Regions from separate parts of the Homo sapiens genome. Here regions 2 and 3 are each linked to region 1. Evidence: fine-mapped expression QTL. A gene starts in region 1. Each other region holds a variant in brackets. All regions are shown on one strand. Distances are between the middles of the regions.

What was found.
Region 2: its variant is fine-mapped to the expression of NIPSNAP3B in stomach (GTEx, PIP above 0.99).
Region 3: its variant is fine-mapped to the expression of NIPSNAP3B in pancreas (GTEx, PIP 0.96).

What each region holds. Positions count from the first base shown.
Region 1 is chr9:104,763,022-104,765,787 of GRCh38, forward strand. NIPSNAP3B (nipsnap homolog 3B) reads left to right here and starts at 1,108. Exons shown (of 6, transcript NM_018376.4): 1 at 1,108-1,279. The coding sequence starts at 1,220. RefSeq lists silencers at 837-1,036, 1,234-1,423.
Region 2 is chr9:104,613,689-104,616,454 of GRCh38, forward strand. All of the region lies in intron 3 of LOC107987105 (a long non-coding RNA gene), which reads right to left. Among named protein-coding and RNA genes, the nearest start is that of OR13C9, 3.1 kb to the right of the region's middle. The variant G/C (reference allele first, on the strand shown) is at 1,387.
Region 3 is chr9:104,809,569-104,812,334 of GRCh38, forward strand. ABCA1 (ATP binding cassette subfamily A member 1) reads right to left here. Exons shown (of 50, transcript NM_005502.4): 29 at 1,232-1,356. Among named protein-coding and RNA genes, the nearest start is that of NIPSNAP3B, 47 kb to the left of the region's middle. RefSeq lists an enhancer at 1,260-1,554. The variant T/C (reference allele first, on the strand shown) is at 1,680.

The sequences.
Region 1 (2,766 bases):
CAGGAGTTCAAGACCAGCCTGCCCAACATGGTGAAACGCCGTCTCTACTAAAAATAGAAAAATTAGCCAGGTGTCGTGGCGTGCGCCTGTAATTCCAGCTACTCAGGAGGCTGAGGCAGGAGAATCTCTTGAAACCGGGAGGCGGAGGTTGCAGTGAGCCAAGATCATGCCACTGCACCCCAGCCTGAGCGACAGAGCAAGACTCTGTCTCAAAAAAATAAAAAACATACGGAAACAGGTATTAGAAGAACAGCTTAAAATGTTGAAGGTGGTTAGTCTGGGGACCAGTACTCTGGGACTGGGAGGACTAGACCAGAGGTCGGCTGTTTTGCTCTTAAGGCTTACAGAACGATCTAGTTTCAAACTATCTATGTTTAACTTCGACTTTTTCCTATCAGGCTCGGTGCTGCTATTCCACTGAGCTCATGGAAAATTAAATCTTTATTAGGAGCCTTCCAAGATCACAGTGGGGTGGCAATGGGGACAGATAATGCAGAAAAGCGAAGGCTCACTGGTCTACAAATACACGTCTATCACAACCTGTAAAAGTTAACCCTGTCCCAGCCTGGCCAATATGGTGAAACTCCGTCTCTACTAAAAAATACAAAAATTAGCGGGGCGTGGTGGCGGGCGCCTGTAGTCCCAGCTACTGGGGAGGCTGAAGCAGGAGAATGGCGTGAACCCGGGAGGCGGAGCTTGCAGTGAGGCGACATCGCGCCAGTGCACTCCAGCCTGGGCGACAGAGCAAGACTACGTCTCAAACAAAGAAACAAGTTAACCCTGTCAACATCTCGACTTTAAATGCAAAGCACTGCACATGCACACGCTGAACACCTCCCCTTCCTTCTCCAGGGGCAACACAAGCACAACCGCCGCACATTTACGAATCTACACAACTGCGCATCGGAGCGAATGAGGTCAGGGCCCAGAAAGGTGGGGCAGGAACGATCCCAGCCTTCAGCTAATTCTGTCACCTCTAACGTCTGGGGCAAGAACGTTTCAGGAAACCAAGGGGGACCGAGGCTCAGCGCCGAAGAGAAAGACGCCAACTGCGGGACCTGTCGCGCCTCCCGCGCCGGGGTGGAGCTGACCCCGCCGAGTCCCGCCCCTGCCTGAGTTCGCCAGTGGTCCAGGAGCCGCTTTTTTCCACTCGGGAAGACTTCAGAGAAGTCTCACAAAGGACTCGGCTGGCTGCTTTTCTCAGTGCCGAAGCCGCGCCATGCTCGTTCTCAGAAGCGGCCTGACCAAGGCGCTTGCCTCACGGACGCTCGCGCCTCAGGTACTGGCCGCGGGGGCGCGCCCGAGCCCTGGCCGGAGGGGAGGGGAGGGGCGGGGGGTATTTCTGAAGCGTGCGAGCCACGCTCAGGCGCTCCCAGACCTGGGGCCCCGCGCCGCCGCCGAAGTTCTAACGCGGTCTCTGGAGCCGTCTGGCGCGCAAGGAGGAGGCTACAGGCCGGGGTCGTCTCGCTGGCAGTCGCTGTCAGAGGGGTTTTCTAACTGGATGCCAGTGTTTTTGTGATTTTTGTTTTTGTTTTTGAGACGGAGTCTCGCTCTGTCGCCCAGGCTGGAGTGCAGTGGCGTAGTCTCGGCTCAGTGCAACCTCCGCCTCCCGGGTTCAAGCGATTCTCCTGCCTCATCCTCCGGAGTAGGTGGAATTACAGGCGCCAGCCACCACGCCCGGCTAATTTTTTTTGTGTTTACTATTTAGTAGAGTCGGGGGTTTCACCATGTTGGTCAGGCTGGTCTCGAACTCCTGACCTCGTGATCCGCCCACCTTGGCCTCCCAAAGTGCTGGATTGCAGGCATGAGCCACTGTGCCCAGCCTGATGCCAGCTGTTTCTAGCCTAAATGCCACAACTCCCGGGACACCCCCGTGGCGCCAGCTGTTGCGTTTTTTTAGGATAACATCTCCAGATACAAATCTCCGAAAATCAACTTTAAAAGCAGTTATTAGAAATACCTCATTGGCCCATTTTCCGAGATAATAATATTTTTAAACTGTAGATACTAAGCAGTTTTTTATTTTCAGAATTTGATTAAACTGACCCAAAAAGAATGGCCATCAAAAGAAAGGATAGTTGCAGGTATTTTTTGGTATGAAGAAGGGTTTTCTAAGAAAACTAAGACACTTGGGCAATAAGGGCATAACTCATACTGGAGATGAATGAACTCAAGATAGACAATTATAATTAAGACGTTATGCACACAAACTACATAGACATTTGCATGTTGTAACCAAAAATATGTCAGTGAAAGATGCCTACTGAAACTGTTGCGATAGATTATTCTGGGTAGTGAGCCTCAGGAAATTGTCACATGCTAACCATGCCTAAATGAATGGATTTGTAAACTAGAATGCCACGGGAGTGGTCTGTGTATACACGTGTGTTTACATAAATATTTGCATGTACGTACATACAGACAGACTGGATAATTTCTGACAGGGCATTTGCTACTGAACATTAAGCTCACTCAGGCTCAGAGGGCCAGATTAGGACAGAAAATTTACCCATTGGGCATATGACTATTACAAAGGGTGGTTCTTAAAGGATAGTTCCATAAACTTGGTATAATTGAGTGCACTAAATGTACATACTTCTTGATATTGCATCTGTAATTAGAAACAATGATGGAGACAATTCTCATTTGTTGAGTTTTTTTCCTTTTCAGCCTTTATGCAGTATACACCCATAGTACAATGCAATTGGATAAGTTATAGCTTCCTTTTATATTAGTTACATTCCAGTCCTGTTTTTGACCGGTAGT
Region 2 (2,766 bases), 150 kb before region 1:
TTCAATCTAATCTAAAGGGCTTAAAATGGTATCTTGTCATTATTGTAAATGGCATTTTAATCTTTATAGATATTTACTATTTACATTTTGGTGTGTCTTAAAGAGTTTTATTTTCTTTCATGTGAGTTGTGCACTCATGTCCTCTATTCATTTTTCTATTGTGTATTTTACATTTTTACACTGGTTTCTTAAATATTCTTTTCAGCTAATAACAAAGTATCAAATAGGATAAAGATATATCAATTAATGATAACAGTCACAATTTTACATTTTTAAATCACTTGTTTACATGAAATGTATTATATATATATACTCTATGAAACTTGTAGAAAGAACATCTGCAAATATAAAAATGCCTCAGACACAGTCCTCACCTTCAAGAATCATATAGTTAGTAAGAAAAACATTCATGTAATTAGTGAATTTCAATACAAAGTGGTGAAAGCTGTGATTAAAGTGATGGCTTAGTGTGCTATGGAAGTGAAACAGGAAAAATTCCCTTATCCCCCTGGCAGAGCATGTGATGGGGGTGTGGCTTGCTTCTTCAGTTACACTAAGAATTGTAGATTTTGCTATCTGGTAGAAATTTTTGCTATCTGGTAGAAATGGCAGATTTTGCTATCTGGTAGAAATGGTAGATTTTGCTGTCTGGTAGAAAAATCACAGGAACACGCACACACTACAAACACACACACACACTACACACACACACACACACACACACACACACAGAGATACATGACTGTTATATCAGATAAGTTTATCTTACTTTGTCTCCAAATTAGAAAAAACAAATTGCTAACAACAAAATGATCCTCCATAAGCTTTTAAAATAAAATTTCTGAATGAAAACTCCTCTAGAGGCTCAAGTATTAAAATAAAGCATTATGTCAGTATTATAATGATTGTGTATTTTGCCCAGCAAATTTGAACACATAAATATATCAAGACAGTTAACATGCCTTTATTTTCTTCAGACCTTGATTCTACAACCCTGTGAGAGAAAAACTCTCCTAATATTCTCCTGTAAGGAGAAATGTGTGCTTTAAAATTTCTTCTTCCTTTAATTAATTTTCTATCAAAAATGTATAAATCTCTAATATCCAGAATCTACAAAGAACTTAAACAAATTTACAAGAAAAAAACAAACAACCCTATCAAAAAGTGGGCAAGATATGAACAGAAACTTCTCAAAAGAAGACATTTATGCAGCCAACAGACACATGAAAAAATGCTCATCATCACTGGTTATCAGAGAAATGCAAATCAAAACCACAATAAGTTACCATCTCACGCCAGTTAGAATGGTGATCATTAAAAAGTCAGGAAAAAACAGGTGCTGGAGAGGATGTGAAGAAATAGGAATGCTTTTACACTGTTGGGACT[G/C]TAAACTAGTTCAACCATTGTGGAAGACAGTGTGGAGATTCTTCAAGGATCTAGAACTAGAAATACCATTAGACCCAGTGATCCCATAACTGGGTATATACCCAAAGGATTATAAATCATGCTACTATAAAGACACATGAACACCTATGTTTATTGCGGCACTATTCACAATAGCAAAGACTTGGAACCAGCCCAAATGTCCATAATGATAGACTGGATTAAGAAAATGTGGCACATATATGCCATGGAATACTATGCAGCCATAAAAAAGGATGAGTTCATGTCCTTTGCCGGGACATGGACGAAGCTGGAAACCATCATTCTCAGTGAACTATCACAAGGACAGAAAACCAAACACTACATGTTCTCACTCATAGGTGGGAATTCAACGATGAGAACACTTGGACACAGGGTGGGGAACATCACACACTGGGGCCTGTCGGGGGGTAGGGTGTTGGGAGAGGAATAGCATTAGGAGAAATACCTAATGTAAATGACGAGTTGATGAGAGCAGCAAACCAACATGGCACATGTATACCTATGTAATAAACGTGCACATTGCGCACATGTACCCTATAACTTAGAGTATAATAATAAAAAATGGTATAAATCTGATGTAACACTATGGAGCCACCTGAGTCATCCCAGAGAATTTATCAAAGTGGCTGGATTTAAGTTGTGAAGGAAAACAAAATTAGCATTTGAGCATTCAAGACAACCTGACTATGAGTCAAACATAAAATGCCTGACTTCCGGAGTTTTCTACCTACCAGGAATTCTTAGTGGGTGCAAAAAGTCCAATGAACTCGTGTATGGGAACTAATAGATTTTCACAGCCCATTTTGTCAGGATGTAAATTTAATTATCAATAATTTCAACTCTTGCCATCAGATTTAATCTGTAAACAACTATGATGGATATATTTAAATATAGTTTGTGACTGTTTAATATTCTTTCCACTAAAATTAACAAGTGAACTTGGGAAGATTAAACGAGTGACTAAACCCAAAGATTCCACAAGCAGGTAATTCTTACTTGTCTACGTAAAATATGTTTATGCCCAATATACTCTAAATTCACTGGTCCATTAATAAAAATTGCTTCAGCTAAACTGATTACCTAGAAGGTGGTTCACTCCTGAACACACTTCATCATTCATCTTGGGCTGTAAATTTAAAATGTTCTTCACATAGAGTAAAATGTTGACGTAAAAACCAAGGAAAAGCAAGATAATGTCTGACATTCCCCAATCCTCTTCTTCCTCAAATTAAGCTGGTTAGTAACAGAGACAAGACATGAATAGTATTTGTACTAAAAATTAAGAGCTTGGACATTCTTCTAAGACTTGGAAAAATATTGGAATTCCCTCGGGATAGCAAA
Region 3 (2,766 bases), 47 kb after region 1:
GGGTACATGAGAGGCAGCCAGCTTAGTAATTCATTAAAACCAGTAATCGAGAGATAAAAATGTTTTTATAAATTAAACATTTTAGGAAGCATTTCTCTGTGACAGGCTCTTAAAACAGAAATGAACAAAACACAGAAACCACCCAGAAGGATCTCAGACTCTGGCCCTGTATTCGGCATCAGGGTGACGTAGAGCACTCCAAAGTGGAGCTTGTTTTAAATGGGCTGTATGTATAAAGGTGTGTATGTGTACACACATGTACATACACATATACATTTATATATTTTTTTTAATTTGAAGAAAATCAACTCATTAAGTATTTCAAAAGTGCTTTCACAATTATCCCTTTGGCACAGACAAGCAGGATTTTCCAAGAAAGGGCAAGAAAACTTTGTACTCTTTGCATGCACAACTAGAAAGCACAAAAATAACAGGCACAGGTCACAAACACATGCTATGTTCCACAACTACGGGCAATACAGGGTCAGCAGCCGGAAAGGAAAAAATAAAGTAAACCTGAACTATGTAAGAAGAAAATGTGGGCTTAGAGAAAAAGAGGCCAATTCACATTACATATATATATATATATATATATATATACTTTTTTTTTTTTAAATGCTTCCCTTTTGTATCACTGACACAGTTCCCCCATCTACAGGTCTACAAATCTTTCAGGACTGAAGAAAGCTCCTGCTAACAAGACCCAGAAAAATCCTTTGTCCTTTTCTTTGATTTAATGTATTGTTACAGAGTGGGGGATATTTTTATCTAAAGAACAAACACTACCTAACATCCCAAATATAACAGAATAGATAATAATTACATGAATTATACTTTGCAGAAAACAAGTCTCTGGAGGTTCTATGCTTTGACAGTGTGCCCTGTGACTCAGTTACAGAATTAAAACACAGCTCCACAAATCCAAATATTTTATAACTTAATCATGGATTTTTGCAAGGGTGGATTATTTCACCTAAAACACATGTGGCTGTTCCTGACAACAGTAGGATGAAGAGGAGAGAGGCTGAAAGGCTCAACAGAAGACTGGCCTATTATTCAGGGTTAGTTCGCTGCTGTTCTATGCATGCAGTATTAGCTTATACAGGGACCTGAGCCGCAGCAGTAAAATTCATTCCACCGTGTAATTCTGAAGTCCATTCCCTTGGCCCTCGTAAACATCTTTGGTCTGCTCGAATCTTACCCCCTCCTGGGATGTAGAAGACAAACATACCTGACAAATGTGTACTGTTCGTTGTACATCCAGGGCTGAAGTTCCAGGCTGGGGTACTTGCCAAAGGGTGGCACGATCAGGCTGAACACAAGGGCAATGCAGACAAACACAGCTGGCAAGACAATCTTTACCCAGGCAGTGGAGGGGGCAGGGGGACAGCAGGAAACGGCAAGTGTTAGAAACAAGGCCAAGGGGCAAATCCCTACGAGTCCAGCCCACCTCCCCGACCAACCAGCACGGCAATGAGGAATGCAGGGCCTATGACTGTGCTGCACCAAGGCATTCTTGGCAGCTGGGAAGCAATGGAGCCTGAAAACTAAACCTTTTCTCTGGCAACACAAGGCCAGAGGTTATGGCCACCTGGCAGAGGCACTAAGCCAAGAAGTTCACGAAGTAAATAGTGCTCACATTCAGGGTGACTCAGAACACTGGGTCCTGCCCTTCCTCC[T/C]CCTGAAGACTGAGAAAGACTACATTGGGCCATGAACCCAGGACCAGGAGCCAGAAGTCCTGAATCCTGGTTCTGTCTCTAGCACAAGTGTACCCATGTGAAGTCACGCTCCCCACTGGCCTCAGTTTTCTCATTTTAATCTGAGGTCTGAGAACACATGGCCCATTCAAATCCTACACTATAATAAAACCAACTCTACAGCAACGGCTCCAATCATGGACAACCATAGTCATTATCTCCCATGATAGTCTCAGAAAGAATAAATATCCAATTCCTTCTTCAACCTCCTAAGACTTTCTACCATATCTTCTCTGAAAAAAAAATGACTTGGGTATACTTTATAAGTTAACCCAAAACTCCTTCCATTTATTGCTGAGAAATGTATTCCTTATAACCTTAAAGATTCAAATAATGCCCCCAATTCTAATGTTCTGGGATTTCAATGCAGAAAATTAACATTGAGTGAATAATTCTGTATAACAACTACTATAATGAGAACTATCTCTATGTTGTCATTATTTATGGTTGTGTTATCAATGGTCATCATCAACAAACAAAGGTAACTGAGGATCAGAGAGACTAAGCAGCTTGCCCAAGGTCATATAGCCAATAAGTAGCAAAGTCAGGATTCAACTTGAGCTCTGTATGCTCCAAACTCCCGCTCTTAACAATATCCACATCATCAAATGAAAGACTCTCTGCAGACCTTTTCTCTATATTTCTTGATTTTATAGAGTGAAAAAATTTAACCTTTCTAACTAAGCAAGTTAGCATGCAAACACTGACATGCAGACAATAGTCTAACAAGTCTTCTCTGTTGGCCAACTATATTCTGACCTATCTTTTCTATCAGTTTGAGTTAAACATCAACTCAGAGAAAAATCATGTTTCTAATAAATTCACATGTCAAGTGCATCTGGGCATAACAACTCTCATGTTATGACAGCTGAATACACCCAACCAGTTTTTCTACACTTTGTCCTTTTTATGTTCTCCTCCAAAATAAAAATAACATATACACACACAAAACTAAGCACTTACTAATGTCAGGCCCCATTCTAAGCACCTATTCATTTTTATTTTCGTA